2 separate regions of the Homo sapiens genome follow, and region 1 is linked to region 2. Evidence: fine-mapped expression QTL. Tissue or cell type: cartilage. Region 2 holds a variant in brackets; the other region holds the start of a gene. All regions are shown on one strand. Distances are between the middles of the regions.

Region 1 (8,000 bases), 650 kb before region 2:
CATTTTAAACATTGAGTAAAACAAAATAATATTAATAAATATGTGTAAAGTATAAAGAATAACAGAATGAACTCTATTGTTTCATAGGTCATTATTACCATTAACTTTGAAGTCCCTTTCTAAATCTATCATTTCCCTCCAAAGGTAACAACTACCCTGGATTTTATGTTAATCATTTATTTGCTTTTCTTCCTGATTTTAAAGCTTATTTATTTATGTAGCCCTAAGAATATTTTTTAGTTTGCATTTTTGGAACTTTGCATAAATAAAACAATTCTGTGTTTTCTGACTGGCTTTAACTGAGATTATTAGTACAAAAAGCCAGCTTTTTGCACTTAAAAAGACTGTAGCTATGAATATTTATATATACTGTGAAATAAAAAACAAATCCAGGCTTGGTAAGGAGAGATTTTATTATAATTTTTTTTTTTTTGAGACAGAGTCTCGCTCTGTTGCCCAGGATGGAGTGTGCAGTGGTGTGATCTCAGCTCACTGCAACCTCCGCCTCCTGGGTTCAAGCGATTCTCGTGCCTCAGCTTCCCTGAGGAGCTGAGATTACAGGCGCATACCACCATGAGTGGCTAATTTTTGTATTTTTAGTAGAGACGGGGTTTCACCATGTTGGCCAGGCTGGTCTCGAACTCTGGACCTCAAGTGATCCGCCCACCTCAGCCTCCCAAAGTGCTGGGATTACAGGCATTAGCCACTGCGCCCAGCCATTATAATTTTTTTTTTTTTTGAGACAGATTCTCATTCTGCTGCCCACCGAATGCATGGCACAATCATGGCTCACTGCAGCCTTGCTCTCTTGGGCTCAAGTGATCCTCCGACCTCAACCTCCCGACGTGCTAAGATTACAGGTGTGAGTTACCACACCCTGCCAGGAGAGATTTTATTTGAAAGGATTATTGCAAGGGAAGAAAGGAACTATTGCAATAGAAGGAGGAAGAATATTGCAGCAGGGAGGACCCTCTGACCATAATATCTGCAAGTGACTCAAGGGTTAGGCAAAAAGGGTTCTTCTCTCATACAGAGGAGTAAACAGGGCAGAACTGGGTGGGAGGAAGTGGGATGATCAGGAGTGGCATGATGGGACAGTAGATCAGATAATGCTTTACCTTGAAGCCAGCCTATTCTCAGGAGAGGCTGTTAAGGAGGAGATGTGCGCTGGCTCAAGCTGAGGGTAAGCCAAAGTTCGGGAAGCTGGGGGAAGGAGAGAAGTTTTAACCAAAGTTTGTTCCAACTGATCAGTGGGGACAAGAAGTTCCTCAAAGCTTTCATGAGGAGATTTGGAATATGGAGTCTGTGTCTGGCTTTGTCATTGGTGAACCAGAGGGGCATACACCAGTCTTACCTAACTCACTTGGGGAAGGATGTTTTTTTGCAATATGCTGTGTTCCAGAACACAAAACAGTGGGAAGGCATTTCTTAAGCCTTAGTTTTCCAGGATCACAGGGCTTGGGTAAAAGTCAACATTATCAATAAGTCTTCTGATAAACATGTGCAGTCATTTTTTTTATTGTTTAGACAAGGGTCTTGCCAACTTGGCCAGGCTGGTCTCAAACTTCTAAGCTCAAGGGATCCTCCTACACCAGCTTGCCAAAGTGCTGGGATTACAGGCGTGAACCACTGAGCTTGGCCCTTTATTTTTTGCTTTTGTTTGAGGTCTCTCAATCTACAGGTTCCTCCTATCACCCAGTATAATGTGTAGACTTTGTCTGAATTATGAATCAATGAATCAATAGTAATCAAATAACCCAATTAAAAAACGTACAAAGAGGGCCGGGTGCGGTGGCTTACATCTGTAATCTCAGCACTTTGGGAGGCCAAGGCGGGTGGATCACCTGAGGTCAGGAGTTCGAGACCAGCCTGACCAATATGGTGAAACCCCGTCTCTACTAAAAATACAAAAATTAGCCGGGCGTGGTGGCACGCACCTGTAGTCCCAGCTACTCGGGAGGCTGAGACAGGAGAATTGCTTGAACCCGGGAGGCGGAGGTTGCAGTGAGCCGAGATCGCACCATTGCACTCCAGCCTGGATGACAGAGCGAGGCTCCATCTCAAAAAAAAAAAAAAAAAAAAAAAAAGACAAAAAGGCGGGGACCGTGGCTCACACCTGTAATCCTAACACTTTGGGAGGCTGAGGCCAGTGGATCACTTGAGCCCTGGAGTTCAATACCAGCCTGGGCAATGCAGTGAGACCCCATCTCTACAAATAGTTTAAAAAATTAGCCAGGCATAGTGGGTTGCATCTGTGGTCCCAGCACTCCAGCCTGGGCGACAGAGCGAGACCCCAACTCAAAAATAAATAAAATATTACCTACAAGTGCTGAGTCAAATGATGTGTAGCTTTGCTTTTACTAGATAACGCCAATTGTTTCCCAAAGTGGTTGTATCAACTTACATTTCCACCAACAGTGTATGAGAGCTTCAGTTCCACCATGTTGTCATCGACTCTAAGGTTTTAAAGTTTGCCAACATAGTGGATGCAAAGTGGGTCTCGCTGCATTTCTTTTATTATTGAGTTGTGCATCTTTTCTTTAACGTAAGCCTCTAGTAACTCATAGCACTTTCATTGTAAATTGGACCTGCGTGTTTCCTCTTTTGCGAAGTATCTTCGGCCCATTTTTCTACCGGGTTATCTTTTTCTTACCGATTTGTGGGAGTTCATCAACACATTTTGGAAAAATAAATGGAAGAACGACTAAAGGTTCAGAACTGAGGAAGGTTGAGATTAGGTGTGCAATATCCACAACTAAATACCTCAAAAATGACCCCTCCCGCAGGCTTCTTATTTGGTCCTCATGAGAGCTTTATGAAAGAACTCTATGACCCCATTTTCCAGGTGAGTTTTTCCATCATCGCCGGCTTCCCTCTGTGGGAAAGGAACACAGAAGACTTCGGATCTTCCAGCTCCAGGTTCCACAACCCCAATCCCAAAGGACTAGTTAGAATTTTCACAATCTCGCAACGCAGGGGCTGGAACGTTGCTCGCGGTGTTCTCGCGAGACTTGGTTCTAGCTGATCATGTGACAATCCAAGATGGCGGTGCCCGGCGAGGCGGAGGAGGAGGCGACAGTTTACCTGGTAGTGAGCGGTATCCCCTCCGTGTTGCGCTCGGCCCATTTACGGAGCTATTTTAGCCAGTTCCGAGAAGAGCGCGGCGGTGGCTTCCTCTGTTTCCACTACCGGCATCGGCCTGAGCGGGCCCCTCCGCAGGCCGCTCCTAACTCTGCCCTAATTCCTACCGACCCAGCCGCTGAGGGCCAGCTTCTCTCTCAGACTTCGGCCACCGATGTCCGGCCTCTCTCCACTCGAGACTCTACTCCAATCCAGACCCGCACCTGCTGCTGCGTCATCTCGGTAAGGGGGTTGGCTCAAGCTCAGAGGCTTATTCGCATGTACTCGGGCCGCCGGTGGCTGGATTCTCACGGGACTTGGCTACCGGGTCGCTGTCTCATCCGCAGACTTCGGCTACCTACGGAGGCATCAGGTAAGAGTGAGAAAGTTAATAGACTGGGCCTACGGGCCTGGAACAGAGGCACCTTTTCAGAGGAGTGGTGAGGATAAGTCAGGCCTCTGGTTAGGACTCTATGAGTTTAGTTCATATTCTAGACAGAGCTTCAGGCTCAACTTGCAGGGAGTTAGTCCAATACATGGAGAAAAATAAACCGGAGAGGCTTATTCGGAAGAGCCTTCATTTTGTTAGGTCCCTTTTGAGACCCTTTCTCTATCCAAGGGGTTGATTTTGCACTAACACAGAAAGAAAAAAGGAAATCCAGTCTCTAACCCTTTTACTGTCTTTCTCTCCTGCTCTCTCTGTGCTTCCTACCCAGTCCTTTCAGTAAGATACAAATGAAGAGACAATCTTTTCTCTGGACAGCTCCCACTTTCATGGGAAATCAGTTTGATGGGGAAACAGGACAGTGCAGAGCCCTCCAGTTCACACATTCAACAAATGCTTACATTGCTAGACCTAGTGTGACTAGCTGGGTATGCAGAGAACAGTTGGACATAGTGTGTGCTCAGAATCCACAAAGGAAGACATTTGGAAAAAGGTTATTGCCACAGAGATGTCATTCTAATTGTTAGCATTCACTGAGCACTCTGTATTTAGTAGGCGCTGTTCTAAGCCTTTTGTTTTCTTACCCCTCTCAACAGTCCTATGAGATAGGAGCTGTTGTTTCTCCCATTTCATAGGTGAAGAAACTGAGGGAAGCCGAAGTTATGTGACTTGCCTGAGGTTACAGAGTTAGTTAGTGTCAGAGCTACAACAAACCTAGGCATCTGTTCCAGAGCCTATACTGTTTATCACCAAGTGCTGTGAGATGACAGAGAAGGGAGAAACTAACTTCCTAGATGGATCATGAAATGTGGCTTTCCATCTGGGTCTTGAAAAATAAATAGGAGTTAATAGGAGAGAATGGTGTTTCTGGGTTTCAGGGTAAATGGCGTTTGCAAAGACACAGCTTTGAAAGCCCGTGAAAAACTTTCAGGGCATGTTAAATTGTTCATTGTGGGCTGGGTTGCAATGGCTCGTGCCTGTAATCCCAGCACTTTGGGAGGCACAGGTGGGTGGATCTCTTGAGCTCAGGAGTTCCATACCAGCCTGGGCAACATGGTGAAACCCTGTCTCTACCAAAAATACAAATTAGCCGGTTGTGGTGGCGCATGCCTGTAGTCCCAGCTACTTGTGAGGTTGAGGTGGGGGGATCACTTGAGCCCAGGAGGTGGAGGTTGCAATGAGTCAAGATCGCGCCACTGTACTCCAGCCTGGGTGACAGAACGAGACCCCATCTCAAAAAAAAAAAAAGAAGAAAAAAAAGAAATTAGGAGAAAAATTGTTTGGTGTGGCTGGAACACATCGTATGAAGACATGCAGGAGGTGGGAGTTGGTGACAGCCGAGAATCAAAAGGTCATCAGGTGGGTAGATATCACTTGAGGCCAGGACCAGCCTGGACAACATGGCGTAACCCTGTCTGTACTAGAAATACAAAAATCAGCCAGGCATGGTGGCACATGCCTGTAATCCCAGCTACTTGGGAAGCTGAAGTATGAGAATCACTTGAACCCGGGAGGCGGAGGTTGCGGTGAGCTGAGATTGCACCACTGCATACGCCAGTCTGGGTGACAGAGTGAGAATCTGTCTCAAAAAAAAGAAAAAAAAAGTTCATCAGGAGCCAGAGCTGGAAGAAACTTGTATGCCCAGCCAAGGTGATGAGAAGTGACATGAAACTACTAGGTAGTTCTGTAGTTCCGCTTGGGGAGAGATGAAAAGACCTGGAGAAGTTTGAGAGGGAGGAACAGCATGAGGCTAATGGATTTATTTTATTATTTATTTATTTATTTTTGAGACAGGGTACTCTGTCGCCCGAGATGAAGTGCAGTGGTGCAATCTTGGCTCACTACAGCCTCACCTCCCAGGCTCAAGCAATCCTCCTGCTTCAGCCTCCCAAGGAGCTGGGATCACAGGGTGCACCACCACTCCCAGCTAATTTTTTTATATTTTGTAGAGATAAGGGTCTCACCATTTTGCCCAGGCTGGTCTTGAACTCCTGAGCTCAAGCAATCCTCCTGCCTCAGCCTCCCAAAGTGCTGGGATCACAAGCGTGAGCCACTGTGTCGGCCTAGATTTTTACTAGGGATTTACTAGATGTTTACTAGGGAAAGGCTAACAGATTTAAACATTGGCCAATTTCTGGCTCAAGTGTTGCTGGAGGCTTCTGGGTTTCAAGATCTATTCTCCCTCCTTTCCAAGGTCTGGGCTCCTTTCCCTTCAAGACCCGGAAGGAACTGCAGAGTTGGAAGGCAGAGAATGAAGCCTTCACCCTGGCTGACCTGAAGCAACTGCCGGAGCTGAACCCACCAGTGCTGATGCCCAGAGGGAATGTGGGGACTCCCCTGCGGGTCTTTTTGGAGTTGATCCGGGCCTGCCGCCTACCCCCTCGGATCATCACCCAGCTGCAGCTCCAGTTCCCCAAGACAGGTTCCTCCCGGCGCTACGGCAATGTGCCTTTTGAGTATGAGGACTCAGAGACTGTGGAGCAGGAAGAGCTTGTGTATACAGCAGAGGGTGAAGAAATACCCCAAGGAACCTACCTGGCAGATATACCAGCCAGCCCCTGTGGAGAGCCTGAGGAAGAAGTGGGGAAGGAAGAGGAAGAAGAGTCTCACTCAGATGAGGTGAGTACAGTGTGCTACCCTGTCCTTGCTGGCAGCTGAAAGAGGCCGAAGGCATTAATAATACCACTCTTCAATTGTCTATTACAAGGGTTCTTAACCTGGGGTCCTCAGGAGGGTTCCAAGGAGTCCAAGAAGGAATGTAAAACTATATTTGCATGTGTGTTTCTGTATTTCTGTAGGGAGATGGTCCAGAGCTTTTACCAGAAGATTCGTAAGTGGGTCTTATTTTTCATTCCCTTGGAAGGGATATATAAGGATGGTTCCTTTTTTTTTTTTTTTGAGACGGAGTCTTGCTCTGTTGTCCAGGCTGGAGTGCAGTGGCACGATCTCGGCTCACTGCAAGCTCTGCCTCCTGGGTTCACGCCATTCTCCTGCCTCAGCCTCCCAAGTAGCTGGGACTACAGGCGGCCACCACCATACCCGGCTAATTTTTTGTATTTTTAGTAGAGACGGGGTTTCACTGTGTTAGCCAGGATGGTCTCAATCTCCTGACCTCGTGACCCGCCTGCCTCAGTCTCCCAAAGTGCTGGGATTATAGGCGTGAGCCACTGCGCCTGGCCAGGATGGTTCCTCTTTATTCATTTTTTTCTTTTTTTTTTTGAGACAGAGTCTCACTGTGTCACCCAGGCTGGAGTGAAGTGGTGCGATCTCGGCTCACTGCAACCTCCACCTCCTGGGTTTAAGTGATTCTCCTGCCTCAGCCTCCCGAGTAAGCTGGGACTTCAGGCATGTGCCACCACGCCCGGCTAATTTTTTTTTTTTTTTTTATTTTTAGTAGAGACAGGGTTTCACCGTGTTAACCAGGATAGTCTCAATTTCCTGACCTCGTGACCCACCTGCCTCGGCCTGCCAAAGTGCTGGGATTACAGGCATGACCCACTGCGCCAGGCCCATTTTTTCTTTTTTAAAAATTATTTCCAGCCGGGCACAGAAGCTCTTGAACCCAGGAGGCGGAGGTTGCAGTGAGCTGAGAAAAAAAAAAAAAATTCCACATGAAAGACCAGATAAGGAGAGTTCATTTTCATAGATGAAAATGTGCTGACCAAAACATGTGCAGTGACTTGTCTAAGATCATCTCAGGAAATAGAGGTAGAGCTGGGATATGAACCCAGTTCTTGCTTCTTCTCTAACCTGTGCGTGCTGTCATAATGTGGCTGAACAGTCATCTCTATTTTCTGACCTAGAGTCAGCAGATTGAACAGTAGCCTCCACTCTCACTTCATTAGTGACATAGACATTTCTTTGGTTCCTTTCTCCAAACTTGGTTGCACATCCATAAAATCAAGTAAGGTGTGATTTGTTGGGAAAACTTTTTTAAAAATGTGTACTCCGGGTAAAAAGTAATTCACCCATGTTTCAAAGCTTCCAGCCAGCTGGGTGCAGTGGCTCACACCTGTAATCCCAGCACTTTGGGAGGCCAAGATGGGTGGATCATTTGAGGTCAGGAGTTCGAGACCAGCCTGGCCAACATGGTGAAACCCCACCTTTACTAAAAATACAAAAATTAGCCAGGCGTGGTGCCTGTAGTCCTAGCTACTGGGAGGCTGAGGCAGGAGAATCACTTGAAGCCAGGAGGTGGAGGTTGCAGTGAGCTGAGATCGCACCACTGCACTCCAGCCTGGGCGATAGAGTGAGACTCTGTCTCAAAAAAAAAAAAGCTCCCAGCCAAGATTGCTAAGACATCTGGACCACATCCCTAGTGTGGTACCATCCTGACTTCCCCTCTCCTCTTCTCTCCCCTTCCTTCCTTCCTTTCCTTTTTTTTTTTTTTTTTTTTTAAGCAGGCTCTGGTTCTATTGTCCTGGCTGGAATGCAG
Region 2 (10,834 bases):
ATTGCCCAAGCTCAGGAGTTCTAAACCAGCATGGGCAACAGGGTGAAAACCCGTCTCTAATAAAAAATACAAAAAATTAGCCAGGCGTGGTGGCATGCGCCTGTGGTCCTAGCTACTCAGGAGGCTGAGGCAGGAAAATTGCTTGAACCTGAGAGGTGGAGGTTGCAGTGAGCCAAGATCATGCCACTGGGCGACAGAGCAAGACTCTGTCTCCAAAACACACACACACACACACACACACACACCAAAACAAAACAAAACAAAAAAAGGAAAATACAGGCAGGCACAGTAACTCACCCCTGTAATCCCAGCACTTTCGGAGGCTGAGGCGGGCGGATCACAAGGTCAGGAGTTCGAGACTAGGCGGGCCAGCATGGTGAAACCCTGTTTCTACTAATAATACAAAAAAGAGCTGGGCGTGTTGGCACGCACCTGTAGTCCCAGCTACTCGGGAGGTTAAGGCAGGAGAATCACTTGACCTTGGGAGGTAGAGGTTGCAGTGAGCCGAGAACACGCCACTGCACTCCAGCCTGGGCAACAGAGCAAGACTCCATCTCAAAAAAAAAAAAAAAAGAAAATACAAAAGTGGTAGAGAGAACACAGGGGCTCAAAGAAGGTTTTCACATTTATTTATTTATTTTTTGAGACAGAGCCTCGCTCTGTCATCCAGACTGGAGTGCAATGGCGCAGTCTCGGCTCACTGCAACCTCCGCCTCCCAGGTTCAAGCAATTCTCCTGCCACAGCCTCCTGAGTAGTTGGGACTACAGGCGCATGCCACCACACCTGGCTAATTTTTATATTTTTAGTAGAGGCAGGGTTTCACTCTGCTGGCCAGGCTGGTCTCGAACTCCTGCCCGCCTCGGCCTCCCAAAATGCTGGGATTATAGGCGTGAGCCACCTGGCCTCAAAGATGGTTTTTAAACCCCAGCTCTGCCAATTACCAACTCTATGACCCCGTACAGATTATGTAGTCTAAGAACCTGGTAAGTTTCTACATCTACCTCGTTAGTACACTATGAAGATTAAATAAAATGCTGTATGTGAAAGTACTTAGCCTAGTGACGTATAAATACGTTTTTAGGTTTTCCTTTGTAACCTTTTGCTATTTTGGAGACCCTATCTGGTGCTTAATTTGACTACCAAACAGATTCAATGGCCAACAGCTCACAAGCCTGTATTTCCTGTCTACAAACATCTTCCTTCTTTTTACAGCTATTTTCTTTAAGCCAAAATTCAAAGGACAAAAGCTATTACAATTCTAAGAACTGTACAGAACCTAGAAAATCCAAGGAAAGATAGACCTCTACCTGCATTTGCTCCATCTGTAAACGAATCAATTCCAGCTGCTGCCGACAAGTGCTGAGTTCACAAGATTGCTCTCGGGGATGCCAAGTGTCAGGACTCGGCTGCCACACCTGAGAGGGCAGAGGCTTGGAGAGCCCGGGAGCAGGCTGGAGTCCCAAAGGGAGGACCCCACTGCTATTAGAATGTGGTCCATTCCGCTCAAACACTGCCCCGCTGCCCGGTGCCTTCTTGGCCTCAGGCAACACTCTGTACAACTCCTTACTTGTGCTGGTTCTTGGGTTGTGGAAGCGGACTCGGTGGTGAGGATCTGAATAAAGTGTCTCCATCATTGCCGACTGATTGAGGGTAGATTCCATGCTAGGAATATCAAACTTCCTCGCCTCTTCTTGTCTTTCATGGCCCACTGCTGGAAACCAGGACTGCTCAATTCCATTTTCTCCAGTAGCACCAGAGAAATACATGAGATCTCTAGATAGGCCTGGAGAATGTTTCATTGCACCGAGGTCTCCATTTCTTGTCATTCCCACACTTTCAGCCAACCCTGACAAAGGGAGTTTAGAGGAAGAGGGTCCAACAGGTGTAGAATTTGGCTTGGCAGGAGAGGTCCCTAAAGTAGAAGGCATCACATGGGCTGTTGGAATGGTTACGTGGCTTTTGATGGGCTGGAAAGGAGGACTGCCACTTGAGCTGCAAAAATCTGGGGAGAGAATAGTCTTCCATAAGTAAAAATTGAAGTAGCAAGCTTTCTTGAGTTTGAATGCTATGCCAGAAGCTCTCGGCCTGTCCTGAGACCAAGCAGAGAGAGCACCATCATCAAAAGTATCAGGCAGAAAGAAACGGCAACCAAACTGGGAGATGTATGTTCCAGGATCTCAAATGCCATTCACAAGGTAAACTAACAAAAGGCAATAATGACTTCACTTTTAACTTAGTCCTTTGTACTGGAATAAAAAAAATCTTGTCAGTCAACAGACAAAGCTGAAAAACTTTTAAAAAGTTTTTTAAAAAATTTAAACTTTAAAACAAATTACTTACTTAAGGAAAATGAGTTAGGTCCTACTCTTCTGGAAGCTGGACAACTCTCAGCTATAATCAAATCTAATAAAAATATCCTTTCCAAGAGTCACCAGAATCTTCTGCGACCTCCAAAAGCTCCCCCAGGAAGGTGAGCAACGAGTCCAAACTATCTGAAGAATGAAGCGAACTAGACAGTCTTGCTCAGTATGCAGGACAGGGAGTATGGCATCTGAGGCAGGATTCTGTTCTCTCTCCCATACCCCAAACCTGACTGCCTGGATATGTGAAGTTATTCTTAGTAACTCTCAGGTTTCACTCTAGCACAGTGAGCACTCTCAATTGGGTACACACTGAAATCCTCTATTTTATATTTTGCCTTTCACTTGCCCCCTTGTGTGTACCCAACTGTGTTTTTTTTTTTTTAACTTTTCCTTCAGACTGAATTTGTGTTTCCTTTGGCTCCTGCCTGGTCTTGGGAGACAACCCTTGATTAGCCCTACTATACAAGGTTCACATTTCTACCTATTTCCAACTTTCAAGTACTACTCTGAGGGGGACTACTGCAAGCAAACAATAAGGGAGGAATGTGAGGTAACATACTTATTGCTTTCAGCAGGCAGAAAACTGAATAAGGAAATAAGGAATACCAATTTCTTCTCTTTTCAACTATATTCAGTACTCGTTCCCAAATCAAGCATATCTACCACGGAGAAGAGCGACTACCAACTTGTTTCTTTTTCTCCCCAGCAACCAACACAGAGAACACTCAGATAACAACAACAAATACTATAATTGTTCCCAGAATTATGTAAGTATAGATCAGCTACGACCTTCTCATTAAACAACTTTTTTTTTTGAAATGGGGTCTCACTCTGTCACCCAGGCTGGAGCACAGTGGCGTGATCACAGTTCACTGCAGCCTCGACCTCCCCAGGCTCAGGTGATCTTCCCACCTCAGTTTTTGTATTTTTAGGAGAGATGGGGTTTCGCCATGTTGCCCAGACTGGTCTCGAACTCATGGGCTCAAGTGATCCACCTGCCTCAGCCTCCCAAAGTGCTAGGATTACAGGTGTGAGCCACCATGCCCGGCCTTAAGCAACTCTTTAAAAATATGGGCAAGCCACCTCACACCTGTCAGAATGGCTATGATGAAAAAGATGAGGCCGGGCGCAGTGGCTCATGCCTGTAATCCCCAGCACTTTGGGAGGCTGAGGAGGGGGGATCATGAGGTCAGGAGATCGAAACCATCCTGGCTAACACGGTGAAACCCTGTCTCTACTAAAAATACAAAATATTAGCCAGGTATGGTGGCACGCGCCTGTAGTCCCAGCTATTCGGGAGGCTGAGGCAGGAGGATCGCTTGAACCCAGGAGGTGGAGGTTGCAATGAGCCAGGATCGCACTACTGCACTCCAGCCTGGGCGACAGAGTGAGACTCCATCTCAAAAAAAAAAAAAAAAAGATGAAAGATAACAAGTTTGGAGAGGATGCAGAGAAAAGGGAACTCTAGTACACAGTTGGGGGGAATGTAACACAGCCACTGTGGAAAACAATGGAGTATGTAGCTCCTCAAAAAACTAAAAATAGTTACCATATGATCCAGCAATCCACTTCTGGGTATATATCCAAACGATATGAAATATGTATGTCCAAGAGATATCTACAATCCCATGTTTACTGAGTAATTATTCACAATAGCCAAGTTATAGAATCAACAGACGAACAGATAAGGAAAATGCAGTATATTACACAACGGAATACCAGCCTTATAAAAGATGTCAATTGTGTCACTTGCAACAACATGGATGAAACTGGAGGACACTAAGAGAAATAAGCCAGGCACAAAATGACAAATACTGCACGTTCTTACTTATATGTGGAAGCTAAAAAAAACCTCGACACATAGAAACAGAGAGAATAATTGTGGTTACCAGAAGCTGGGAGCAGGGGGAATCGAGAGATGCTGATCAAAGGGTAAAACATTTCGGTTAGACAGGAGGAATAAATACTTTAAAAAAAGACGTGCAAGCCTTATATTACATGCATAGTATCTAATTTGCTATACTGAAGATGATCTTGGGGATATATAAAAGGCCACACTAAAAAAACACACACACACGTAACAAAACAAAAACCTGAATAAGTTCTGATAACATGCATTAGTCTCTCAGGACCAAGAAAGAAATTTCTCAGTTAAAGGACCCAGTTTCTGATGTCTCACAACTTAAATATAGGACTAGTACACAAGGTTAAGGCAGACTGCTAGTGATAAAGACTTCAAAGACTAGTAAGCAATACAATTTTTTGTTTTATTTTTTGGAGCCGGAATTTCACTCTTGTTGCCCAGGCTGGAGTGCAATGGCGCGATCTTGGCTCACCACAACCTCCTCCTCCTGGGTTCAAGCGATTCTCCTGCCTCAGCCTCCCAAGTAGCTGGGATTAAAGGCATGCTCCACCACGCCCGGCTAATTTTGTATTTTTAGTAGAGACAGGGCTTCTCCATGCTGGTCAGGCTGGTCTTGAACTCCCAACCTCAGGTGATCCGCCCGCCTCGGCCTCCCAAAGTGCTGGGATTACAGGTGTGAGCCACTGCCCCCGGC[C/A]CAATTTTTTCTTTTTTGAGATGGGGTCTCACTCACTCTGTTGTCCAGGCTGGAGTGCAGTGGCACGATCTTGGCTCACCGCAACCTCTGCCTCCTGGGTTCAAGCGACTCTTCTGCCTCAGCCTCTCGAGTAGCTGGGATTACAGGAGCCCGCCACCATGCCTGGCTAATTTTTGTATTTTTAGTAGACGGGGTTTCACCATGTTGGCCAGGCTGGTCTTGAATTCCTAACCTCAAGTGATTCACCTGTCTCGGCCTCCCAAAGTGCTGGGATTACAGGGATGAGCCACCGTGCTTAACCATAAGCAATATGTTTTAAATCCTCCATAACAGCACCATAGTTATCAGTTCTTACCAAGGGTCACTGCTCCCACGGTGTAATTACAAAACAGAAGACTGTGAGGTTGTAGCACATGAGGGGTTGCTACCATGAACTTTGCAATACCTCCTTCCAGTCTCCATCCATAGCACCACTCTCTCTAGATTCACCAAATTCAGTTTTGAGCCCACACCCCCTGCTGTGGTTTGAAAGTGTCTGTCCCCCAAAAGTTCATGTGTTGGAAACTTAATTGCCAATGTAACAGTATTAAGAGGTGGGGGCCTCTAAGAGGTGACTGGGTCATGAGGGTAGAAGCCTCATAATAGATTAGCAGAAGTGAGTTAGTTCTCAAAGCAGTGGGTTGTTATAAAAGCAAGCTTGGGGCCGGGCATGGTGGCTCATGCCTGTAATCCCAGCACTTTGGGAGGCTGAGGTGGGCGGATCACCTGAGGTCCGGAGTTTGAGACCAGCCTGATCAACGTGGAGAAACCCTGTCTCCACTAAAAATACAAGATTAGCTGGGCGTGGTGACGCATGCCTGTAGTCCCAGCTTCTCAGGAGGCTGAGGCAGGAGAATCGCCTGAAACCGGGAGGCAGACGTTGCAGTGAGCCGAGATTGCACCATTGCACTCCAGCCTGGGCAACAAGAGCTAAACTCCACCTCAAAAAAAAAAAAAAAAACCAAGCTTGGGTTGGGCACGGTGGTTTATGCCTGTAATCCTAGCACTTTGGGAGGCAGAGGCAAGCGGATCATTTGAGGTCAGGAGTTCAAGGCCAGCCTGGCTAACATGGTGAAACCCCATCTCTACTAAAAATACAAAAATTAGCTGGGCATGATGGCGGGTGCCTGTAATCCCAGCTACTCGGGAGGCTGAGGCAGGAGAAATCACTTGAACATGGGAGGCGGAAGCTGCAGTGAGCCAAGATCCCACCACTGCACTCCAGCCTGAGTGACAGAAATAAGACTCTGTCTCAAAAAAAAAAAAAAAAAAAAAAAAAAGAAAAAAGAAAAAAAAAAGGCAAGCTTGGCTCACTCTAGTGGTCTCTGCTTTTCCACCATGTTATGATACAGCACAAAAGCCTTCGCCAGATGCTGCCACTATGCCTTTGGACTTCTCACTCTCCAGAACCCTGGGCAAAATAAACATCTTTTCTGTATAAGTTACACTGTCTCAGGTATTCTCTTACAGTAACAGAAAATACACTAAGATAACCCCAAAATAATGCCAAAACCAAAGCCAAGAAGAAAAGTACCAACTGACCCAGAAGAATATGGCTTTTCTAATTTTTTATAGATGATAAATGGACATATTAGAAAATTAAGGTGAGGTCTTTGTCCACATTTTTAACTTATCTATTGGGTTTATCTATTTATATTAAGTAAACTGCCTGATTCAGACTAACTGTGCTATGAAATGTAAAGTTACACCAGCGGTTCCCAACCTTTTTGTTACCAGGGAATCGTTTTGTGGAACACAATTTTTCCACAGACGATGGTTGGGGGGATGGTTTCAGGATGAAACTGTTCCACCTCAGATCATCAGGCATTAGATTCTCGTAAGGACTGAGCAACCTAGATCCCTCACATGCACAGTTCACAATAGGGTTCGTGCTCCTATGAGAATCTAATGTCACCACTGATCTGACAGAAGGCGCAAGCTCAGGCAGTAATGCTTGCTCGCCTGCTGCTCACCTCCAGCTGTGTGGCCTGGTTCCTAATATGCCATGGACTGGTACTGGTCCACGGGCCAGGAGTTGGGGACCTCTGAGTTACACCGTAAGTCTGGTCTGTGGTTTAGAATATTTTGAAATGAAATAGCAACACTCATTTTCAAAGGGACCTCTATCTTCTACAATTTTCAAAGGCATTCAAAATTTAGTGTATGGGAACCAGGCAGGTGGTGCATCTCTGTAGGCCCAGCTACTCAGTAGTCTAACTCAGGAGGATTACTTGAGCCCCACCGAGTTCATGGCTATAGTACACTATGATGGTACCTGTGTGAACAGTCATTGCACTCCAGTGTAGGCAACACAGTGAGATCCATCTCTTTAAAAAATACAATGCATGGGATATGTGATTTTTATTTACAGAAATCTACAGTTCCCAAAAACTTTGGGGTTTTGCCATTTTAAGAATATAGTTCTAAATCTCTCCCCTACTTAACCACATTTTATGACCCCTCCCCACCCTAAAAAACAACTCATTTTTGAGCAAACTTCCTTTCACAGTAAGGGTAGATTCAGCTATTACCAAATCTCAGTCACTTCAGTCTACACCTGAAGTGATTCAGTAGCCTGAATTACACCAGTGACTATTTCAGTCTTTTGCAAAGAGCTGAAAGCATTCTGAACTCTTCAGTACCCACCTCTACTCTGTCCCTCGAGAATCTTTCAAGGTAAAACACCTTAGTGAAGAAGGGTGGAATCAAAAGCATGCCTATTAAATTTAAAGATGCAACAATGAACTATACTGTATACCAGTCACAGGGGTTCTTGTCAACTAGACCGCAAGCTAGATTCATGAACAAAATGTGTAAGAGTTAAGATTAGAGGCCAGGAGCAGTGGCTCACGCCTATAATCCCAACACTTTGAGAGGCCAAGGTGAGTGGATCAGCTGAGGTCAGGACTTCGAGACCAGTCTGGCCAACAAGGTGAAACCCCGTCTTTACTAAAAATACAAAAATTAGCTGGGTGTGGTGGCACACGCCTGTAATCCCAACTACTCAGAAGGCTGAGGCAGAAGAATCGCTTGAACCCGGGAGGCGGAGGTTGCAGTGAGCCAAGATCATGCCACTGCACTCCAGCCTGGGTGACAGAGTGAGACTCCGTCTCAAAACAAACACACAAAAAGAGTTAAGATTAGGATCATGGTATGTAACAAACATAGCAGTTTAAAAAATGTCTAGGCCTGGGCGTGGTGGCTCACGCCTGTAATCCCAGCACTTTGAGAAGCCGAGGTGGGCAGATCGTGAGGTCAGGAGATCGAGACCATTCTGGCTAACACGGTGAAACCCCGTCTCTACTAAAAATACAAAAAATTAGCCGGGCGTAGTGGCGGGTGCCTGTAGTACCAGCTACTTGGGAGGCTGAGGCAGGAGAATGGCATTAACCCGGAAGGCGGAGCTTGCAGTGAGCCGAGATTGCCCCACTGCACTCCAGCCTGGGCAACAGAGCGAGACTCGGTCTCAAAAAAAAAAAAAAAAAAAAAAGAGTTCAAGACCCAGACTGGCCAACATGGTGAAACCCCATCTCTACTAAAAATACAAAAATTAGCCAGGCATGGTGGTACACGCCTGTAATCCCAGTTACTCGGGAGGCTGAAAGAGGAGAATCGCTTGAACCCAGGAGGTGGAGGTTACAGTGAGCCGAGATTGGGCCACTGCACTCCAGCCTGGGCGACAGAGCGACTCTGTCTCGAAAAAATAAGAAGAAGTAAAAAAAACTTCTAGACCAATATCTTTGACCCCTATCTCGAGAAGACTATTACAACTTTTAAAAAATGCACTAGAATGTAAGTTATTTTCCCAAAAGAATAAAAAAGAGAGTCACACACACAATCTGTGTAGCAATGTAACTGAATTAAATACAGCTGGTCATTTCAATGGGGGAAAAATCTAGACCACTGATTGATTTTAAAAATATCTATTATTTAATCAAAATAAAAAGGTCCTATGACTGCACATGTAGACAAAACCTTAACAAGTGAAAATTAAATTAACAGTAAGATTTTTGATTACACAATTGATAGAATATTACACAGTCAGGAGACCAGAATCTGATAACCAGCTGTATGATGTTAGGCAAGTTACTTAACTCCTTGGGGAATTTTTGTTATTCACCAATCAAAACGAGCAGAGGCAATTTTTGAAGTCCTGTGTACCTCAAAATCTATGATTCAATTCTACTCAATAGTTACTGAGCACAGTCCCCATTATACACATAGTTGTCAAACTATCAAAATTAACTCTAGGGGCTGGGTGCAGTGGCTCACACCTGTAATCCCAGCACTTTGGAAAGTCAGGGCAGGAGGACTGCTTGAGCCCAGAAGTTCAAGAACCATCCTGGGCAAGATGGTGAGAACCTGACTCCACACGCAAAACAAAACAAAACAAAACAAAACAAACTGGCTGAGTGTGATGGTACACGCCTGTAGTCCCAGCTACTTGGAAGGCTTAGGTGGAAAGATAGGTTGAGCCCAGGAGTTCAAGGCTGCAATGAGCTTGTGATCACGCCATTGCACTCAAGCCTGGGTGACAAAAAGAGACCCTATCTTTATAAAACAAACAAACAAAAACTAAAATTAATGCTAGATGTCTAGGAACCAGTAATAGTAGATGTGGTCCCCACTACCCTCTTTTTTTTTTGGAGACAAGATCTCACTATGTTGCCCAGACTGTACTCAAACTCGTGGGCTCAAGTGATTTTCCCACCTCAGCCTTGGGAGCAGCTGGGACTATAGGTACAGACCACTGTCCCTGGCTTTTTTTTTTTCTTTTCATTTTTAAATTTACTCCTCTCAGCTCATACCTATTTAAGAAAAACAAAAAACAAAAACCTTTATTGAAATACAATTCACATATTATACAATTTGCTCACTTGAGGTGTACAATTCAATGGGTTTTAGTATATTAATGGAGTTGCATAATCACTACAATCAATTTTACAACATTTTCATCACTCCAAAAAGAAAACCTCTTACCCTTTGGCAGTCATGCTGTTTCCACCAGCTTCCGAAGCCCTAGAAAACCATTAATCTACTTTGTGTTTCTGTACATTCACCTATTCTGGACTTTAGGCATTAGTTTGATCCTCATAAAGAGCACACAACCTAGATCCCTCAAATGCACATTTCACAATAGGGTTCCTGCTCCTGTGAGAATTTAATCCCGCCACTGATCTGACAGGAGATGGAGCTCAGGCGGTAACGCTCGACCTGCTGCTCACCTCCTGCTGTGTGGTTCCTAACAGGCCAGACTGGTACCGGTCCTTGGCCCAGGGGTTGGAGACCCCTGATATAAAGGGAATCATGCAATATACAGCCTTTTGTGTCTGGCTTTTTTTTAACTTCATATATAATGGTTATTTCATTTTATTTTCTTTTTCTTAACGGTGCTCTACACATTCAGAAAAACTTCTCTAGTAACATACTACAGAAACGATCCCTGAAAATACAGTCTTAGTATATAATTTTTTTTTTTTTTTAAAGACGGAGTCTCACTCTGTTGCCCAAGCTGGAGTGCAATGGCACGATCTCACCTCACTGCAACCTCTGCCTCCCGGGTTCAAGCAATTCTCTTGTCTCAGCCTCCCGAGTAGATTACAGGCATACATCACCACGCCCAGCTAATTTTTTGTATTTTAGTAAAGATGGGCTTTCACCGTGTTGCCCAGGCTGGTCTCGAACTCCTGAGCTCAGGCAATCCACCCGCCTTGGCCTCCCAAAGCGCTAGGATTATAGACATCAGCCCCTACATCTGGCCAGTATATGTTTTTAAGGTAGCATGTACCAGTATTTCATTTCTTTTTATTGCTGAATAATATTCTACTGTATTATATGGATATTCATTCATTCATCAGTTGTGGGTTTTGGAT

Which allele goes with the higher level. Positions count from the first base shown, and alleles are read on the strand shown. Sizes are in standard deviations (SD) of each study's normalised expression.
For the expression in cartilage of the gene that starts at base 3,018 in region 1, allele C in region 2 goes with a higher level than allele A (large effect, 1.1 SD a copy in Steinberg 2020).

The links. PIP is the estimated chance that this variant, and not a neighbour inherited with it, causes the effect.
Region 1: GPATCH3 starts here. The variant in region 2 is the best candidate, but not a certain one, in a credible set for the expression of GPATCH3 in cartilage (Steinberg 2020, PIP 0.51).

The regions. Positions count from the first base shown.
Region 1 is chr1:26,895,485-26,903,484 of GRCh38, reverse strand. It overlaps GPATCH3 (G-patch domain containing 3), which reads left to right and starts at 3,018. Exons shown (of 7, transcript NM_022078.3): 1 at 3,018-3,493; 2 at 5,760-6,184. The coding sequence starts at 3,043. It also overlaps a transcript of NUDC not described here. RefSeq lists an enhancer at 2,954-3,073.
Region 2 is chr1:26,246,340-26,257,173 of GRCh38, reverse strand. It overlaps CEP85 (centrosomal protein 85), which reads right to left. Exons shown (of 14, transcript NM_001319944.2): 4 at 1,309-2,003. It also overlaps the pseudogene LOC124904684. Among named protein-coding and RNA genes, the nearest start is that of CEP85, 18 kb to the right of the region's middle. The variant C/A (reference allele first, on the strand shown) is at 4,923.